2 separate regions of the Homo sapiens genome follow, and region 1 is reported to be linked to region 2. The links are microRNA targets in miRTarBase. Many come from high-throughput screens and were not tested one by one. Region 2 holds a microRNA gene; the other region holds the end of a gene's coding sequence.
What was found. Region 2 holds the annotated microRNA hsa-miR-3134 (UGAUGGAUAAAAGACUACAUAUU, at 2,487-2,509, opposite strand). A microRNA usually pairs through its seed, bases 2 to 8, with sites in the 3' UTR of a target mRNA and lowers its output. Matches are read on the target gene's strand: a 7mer-m8 pairs with bases 2 to 8, a 7mer-A1 pairs with bases 2 to 7 and ends in A, and an 8mer does both.

Region 1: miRTarBase lists MAP2K4 as a target of hsa-miR-3134. Seed matches in the 3' UTR shown: 7mer-A1 at 815-821 and 7mer-A1 at 2,076-2,082.

Annotation. Positions count from the first base shown.
Region 1 is chr17:12,140,574-12,143,993 of GRCh38, forward strand. MAP2K4 (mitogen-activated protein kinase kinase 4) reads left to right here. Exons shown (of 11, transcript NM_003010.4): 11 at 574-3,255. The coding sequence ends at 687. Among named protein-coding and RNA genes, the nearest start is that of MIR744, 60 kb to the left of the region's middle.
Region 2 is chr3:15,694,819-15,698,238 of GRCh38, forward strand. It overlaps MIR3134 (microRNA 3134), which reads right to left and starts at 2,553; the gene lies at 2,480-2,553. It overlaps ANKRD28 (ankyrin repeat domain 28), which reads right to left. Exons shown (of 28, transcript NM_001349278.2): 15 at 1,316-1,427; 16 at 370-396. It also overlaps a transcript of BTD not described here.

The sequences.
Region 1 (3,420 bases), not on the chromosome of region 2:
TGGCTCTGGAGAGTACAGGGAAGAAGCTCCTGGGGCAAATTTCTCTTGGGCCTCTTTTGGTCAAAAGAATTACAGCCTTTTTGTTAAAAGGTCAAAAGAAGAGGTCAAAAGGATTGCGACCTTTTTGTAAAAAGGTCCTCCTGTTGTATATAGGAGAAATGGAGGTTGAGATTTATATTGGTGTCCCAAGAGGAATAGTGACTGGCATTTGCGTCATTCTTCTTAGCTCTTAGATGGTGTGGTGGAGGCTCCAGCTATGTTTTGTGCTGAGTGACAACTTGGCTGTCTTCCTCAACAAACACTCCCTGGTATACAGATGAGTTTCCAGACCTCACTGCCAAGGTGGCACCTTCAGATCATTACCACGTATCCTCTCTCTAGGCATGCCCATGCCCATTAGCATATCTGCATGGAATAAAGGCTGTACTCGCCTCTCTGAACTTGTAGTGTTGCGGTATTTCATAGCTATGTGTGGTTGGGAGCCTGGAGTTCTATGTTCTATAGAAATTGGAAAATGTTCAGTTTGGGCTGTCATACAAACTTTTGACTTTTTTGTTTTCAATTTTCTTGCAGAAACATCCCTTTATTTTGATGTATGAAGAACGTGCCGTTGAGGTCGCATGCTATGTTTGTAAAATCCTGGATCAAATGCCAGCTACTCCCAGCTCTCCCATGTATGTCGATTGATATCGCTGCTACATCAGACTCTAGAAAAAAGGGCTGAGAGGAAGCAAGACGTAAAGAATTTTCATCCCGTATCACAGTGTTTTTATTGCTCGCCCAGACACCATGTGCAATAAGATTGGTGTTCGTTTCCATCATGTCTGTATACTCCTGTCACCTAGAACGTGCATCCTTGTAATACCTGATTGATCACACAGTGTTAGTGCTGGTCAGAGAGACCTCATCCTGCTCTTTTGTGATGAACATATTCATGAAATGTGGAAGTCAGTACGATCAAGTTGTTGACTGTGATTAGATCACATCTTAAATTCATTTCTAGACTCAAAACCTGGAGATGCAGCTACTGGAATGGTGTTTTGTCAGACTTCCAAATCCTGGAAGGACACAGTGATGAATGTACTATGTCTGAACATAGAAACTCGGGCTTGAGTGAGAAGAGCTTGCACAGCCAACGAGACACATTGCCTTCTGGAGCTGGGAGACAAAGGAGGAATTTACTTTCTTCACCAAGTGCAATAGATTACTGATGTGATATTCTGTTGCTTTACAGTTACAGTTGATGTTTGGGGATCGATGTGCTCAGCCAAATTTCCTGTTTGAAATATCATGTTAAATTAGAATGAATTTATCTTTACCAAAAACCATGTTGCGTTCAAAGAGGTGAACATTAAAATATAGAGACAGGACAGAATGTGTTCTTTTCTCCTTTACCAGTCCTATTTTTCAATGGGAAGACTCAGGAGTCTGCCACTTGTCAAAGAAGGTGCTGATCCTAAGAATTTTTCATTCTCAGAATTCGGTGTGCTGCCAACTTGATGTTCCACCTGCCACAAACCACCAGGACTGAAAGAAGAAAACAGTACAGAAGGCAAAGTTTACAGATGTTTTTAATTCTAGTATTTTATCTGGAACAACTTGTAGCAGCTATATATTTCCCCTTGGTCCCAAGCCTGATACTTTAGCCATCATAACTCACTAACAGGGAGAAGTAGCTAGTAGCAATGTGCCTTGATTGATTAGATAAAGATTTCTAGTAGGCAGCAAAAGACCAAATCTCAGTTGTTTGCTTCTTGCCATCACTGGTCCAGGTCTTCAGTTTCCGAATCTCTTTCCCTTCCCCTGTGGTCTATTGTCGCTATGTGACTTGCGCTTAATCCAATATTTTGCCTTTTTTCTATATCAAAAAACCTTTACAGTTAGCAGGGATGTTCCTTACCAAGGATTTTTAGCCCCAAATCTCTCATATTCGCTAGTGTTTAAAAGGCTAAGAATAGTGGGGCCCAGCCGATGTGGTAGGTGATAAAGAGGCATCTTTTCTAGAGACACATTGGACCAGATGAGGATCCGAAACGGCAGCCTTTACGTTCATCACCTGCTAGAACCTCTCGTAGTCCATCACCATTTCTTGGCATTGGAATTCTACTGGAAAAAAATACAAAAAGCAAAACAAAACCCTCAGCACTGTTACAAGAGGCCATTTAAGTATCTTGTGCTTCTTCACTTACCCATTAGCCAGGTTCTCATTAGGTTTTGCTTGGGCCTCCCTGGCACTGAACCTTAGGCTTTGTATGACAGTGAAGCAGCACTGTGAGTGGTTCAAGCACACTGGAATATAAAACAGTCATGGCCTGAGATGCAGGTGATGCCATTACAGAACCAAATCGTGGCACGTATTGCTGTGTCTCCTCTCAGAGTGACAGTCATAAATACTGTCAAACAATAAAGGGAGAATGGTGCTGTTTAAAGTCACATCCCTGTAAATTGCAGAATTCAAAAGTGATTATCTCTTTGATCTACTTGCCTCATTTCCCTATCTTCTCCCCCACGGTATCCTAAACTTTAGACTTCCCACTGTTCTGAAAGGAGACATTGCTCTATGTCTGCCTTCGACCACAGCAAGCCATCATCCTCCATTGCTCCCGGGGACTCAAGAGGAATCTGTTTCTCTGCTGTCAACTTCCCATCTGGCTCAGCATAGGGTCACTTTGCCATTATGCAAATGGAGATAAAAGCAATTCTGACTGTCCAGGAGCTAATCTGACCGTTCTATTGTGTGGATGACCACATAAGAAGGCAATTTTAGTGTATTAATCATAGATTATTATAAACTATAAACTTAAGGGCAAGGAGTTTATTACAATGTATCTTTATTAAAACAAAAGGGTGTATAGTGTTCACAAACTGTGAAAATAGTGTAAGAACTGTACATTGTGAGCTCTGGTTATTTTTCTCTTGTACCATAGAAAAATGTATAAAAATTATCAAAAAGCTAATGTGCAGGGATATTGCCTTATTTGTCTGTAAAAAATGGAGCTCAGTAACATAACTGCTTCTTGGAGCTTTGGAATATTTTATCCTGTATTCTTGTTTGAATTCCTCCTCTATTTAAGATATATACATGGAATCGAAGTGTTTATGTAATAGTTCTATCCTTTTGCCTGCAGGTCAGTTGTAATAAATCTAGGATGTGATGATGACTTTGTAATTTGATTTTCTGAAATCAGACCCTGAGAGGGGAAAATCTTAAAGTAAATTACATTAAATTATCTGTGCATTTCACACCAGGGAAAATGACCTCCTTTTGGAAGTGTTTTATGGCTGCTTTCTTTTTCTTCTTCCTTCCCATGGCTACCCTTTTTGCTTATCCTTCTTGAAACCACAGATGTATCTGTTAAGCATAGCTTTGCTTGAACAGGTGTCACAGTCTCTTGAGTTTCTTTGTTTGTTGTCCTGACC
Region 2 (3,420 bases):
AAAGAAGAGGCATTTTAAATGTCAGAAAGACATACTACAGCAATTATTCTCTCCCACCCACCCAGTTCAAATCCACCTTAGAGTATTATTTGGCAACTCAGCAAACTTATAAAACATGATTATTATGAAAGTATACTAAGGACCACAGACTAAGAGCTTTGAAGACAGGCATAAGAGTTTGGGGGAAATGCTACTTAATTGCCACCAAGTAAACATCTTCCTTTCCTCTGTACACATGATTTCTGTCACCGTCTTTGTGCCTAATATGTAAAAACACTTTCAGCTCTAATGAGAGCAAACAGATAAACATAACTGGTAGGAGGGAACTGACCAATACTAATTGGTGGGAGGGAATTGACTAATACTTACAACATCTAGAGGAGTTTCACTTGCAATCTGAAATAAAAGTCAAAACAAAAATATTTAGCTTGGGAAGTATTCATCTATATTAAGTCTCAACTTATATAGAGCTTTGCTAACTTTTACCCTAAACCCGTGCTTCCTTTGGCTCCAAAAAATTAGGTGTTTTGAATAAACAATTTTATATCACAACAGACGTCAAATCTATATACATAGGTCTAAAATTTTGGTGTGAATATCCATAACGTAGGAAAATAGTTATTTTTGTAGCAGGGCTCTAAGTGCTATATTAAATTGTCAACCTCCCTTTTCTTGTTTTATATCTACGCTCGTTGAATTTTATTTCCCCTTGAAGGGAAGCAAAGTTTAATGTAATTTATAAGGTAAGTCTAAATAAGAGCATCTTTAACCTAAAGTATCTGTTACACACATGAATATCTTTTCCTTGACTTTCCTTCTGGTTTGGTAAATTTGGGTGAATGGTGGTATTCTATTCCAGAATCAGACCACAGCAGAAATAAAAACGTCCTCTGCAGAAGTGGAGTCTCCCTTGTTAGGAGGGGTTGTGAAATAAATGTGCCTTTTGGAATTCCCTAAATATATGGGGGAGATATTCCTTTCACAGGGACTTTTATTTCTCACAAAAGACACAGTTATAGTTTTTTAGAAACTTATGAGGAATATTAATTTAAAGGGGCAGGAGAAGTAAATAGTGTAGACATGAACATGGGGTAATCAGTAGCCCTCTTCAGAGATCTAATTTTCTCCTTTTTTAAAAGGAAAAGAGAATGAGATATATCTTACTAAAGCAAGTGTGAATTTAAGAGGTATATAAATTCTGAAAATGTTAAAAAACAAAATGGAATTTGTTCCTTGATCCATTTATTCTCATTTTTGTTACATTATTAGACTATAAACTCCCATTAGGTCTTTCACAAGAATTCAGGAATCTTACCAGCTGAAGACATAGACGGTGACCATAAGCAGCTGAATAATGAACTGCGTTGTATCCTTGCTTATCACGGATCCCTGGATTTGCATCGTTTCTTAATAAGTATTCCAGGCACCTATATACAACAACAACAACATACTGAAAATCCTAAATCCTGCATATTAACCAATGATAAAAAGAGACTGAAATTAAAAACTGACAATTTTTCTTATACTTGAGTAATATAAAAATCATAAATGTATTACACTATAAAAATGTCATTTAAATGACACTGACTAAAGTATCATAAAAATGCAAATGAAACATTCATGAGAATCTTCTTGATTCAAAGTGGATACCTCAAAAGTCTGTCAGACAGCTTTTTTTTTCATATGTGAAGGCTATCTTTTACACAGTCTCTATCTATACCACCACCTATTCTACTAAACAATGTTGGATAGGATTAAACTTTTCGTGGTGGTGAGTACATAATATTGGCAATATTACTATTTATCTATCTAGAACACAGAATGAGTAAATTTTTCATCATGAAGCTCAAGAAAGGATGTTAAACAAAACAAAACCTCAAGAAACCAAGGTCAGAACTCAATGAATCTGAATTAGAGGACTAAGAAGAGGTATATAAACAGAGTAAAGTGGTAAGAAGGTATCCATAAGAGATACTTCATTTCATTTCTGTGATAATAAAATATGAGGAAAATAATTTTAAAAAACACTATATGTAAAACCACTATGGAAAACTGTATGGAGATTCCTTAAGGAACAAAAAGTAACACTACCATTTGATCCAGCAATCCCATTACTGAGTATCTACCCAGGGGAAAAGAAGTCATTATTTGAAAAAGGCACTTGCACATGCATGTTTATAGCAGTACAATTCGCAATTGCAAAAATATGAAACAAGTCTATTTAGGCTATCTATCAACGAACGAGTGCGTAAAGAAAATGTGGTATATATACACCATGGAATACTATTCAGACATAGAAAGGAACAAAATAATAGCATTTGCAGCAACCTGGAGTTGGAGATCATTATTCTAAGTGAAGCAATTCAGGGATGGAAAACGAATATCGTATGTTCTCGCTCATAAGTGGGAGCTATGAGGAGACGCGAAGGCACAAAAATGATAGAATGGACTTTGGGGACTCAGGGGGAAGTTCCCAAATTGTACCCAATATGTAGTCTTTTATCCATCATATTTTACTCCATGTGAGGGATAAAAGACTACACATTGGATACAGTGTACATTGCTCAGGGGACCAGTGCACCAAAATCTCAGAAATCATCAATAAAGAACTTATCTATGTAACCAAAAACCACCTGTTCCCCAGGAACTATTGAAATAAAATACAATAAAAATAAATTTAATCATGTGTTTGTTTTTTTTTTGCCATTGGTTCTGTTTATGTGATGGATTACGTGTATTGATTTGCGTACGTTGAACCAGCCTTGCATCCCAGGGATGAAGCCGAGTTGATTGTGGTGGGTAAGCTTTTTGATATGCTGCTGGATTCAGTTTGCCAGTATTTTATTGAGGATTTTCGCATTGATGTTCATCAGGGATATTGGCCTAAAATTCTCAAGGCTTTGGTATCAGGATGATGCTGGCCTCATAAAATGAGTTAGGGAGGATTCCCTCTTTTTCTATTGTTTGGAATAGTTTCAGAAGGAATGGTACCAGCTCCTCTTTGTACCTCTGGTAGAATTCGGCTGTGAATCCATCTGGTCCTGGACTTTTATTTGTTTGGTAGGCTATTAATTATTGCCTCAATTTCAGAACCTGTTATTTGTCTATTCAGAGATTCAACTTCTTCCTGGTTTAGTCTTGGGAGGGTGTATATGTCCAAGAATTTATCCCTTTCTTCTAGATTTTCTAGTTTATTTGCGTAGAGGTGTTTATAGTATTCTCTGATTGTAGTTTGTATTTCTTTGAGCTCGGTGGTGATATTCCCTTTATGTGTCTATTTGAATCTTCTCTTTTCTTCTTCATTAGTCTTGCTAGCGGTCTGTCTGATTATCTCAATAGATGCAGAAAAGGCCTTCGACAAAATTCAACAGCACTTCATGCTAAAAACTCTCAATAAACTAGGTATTGATGGAATGTATC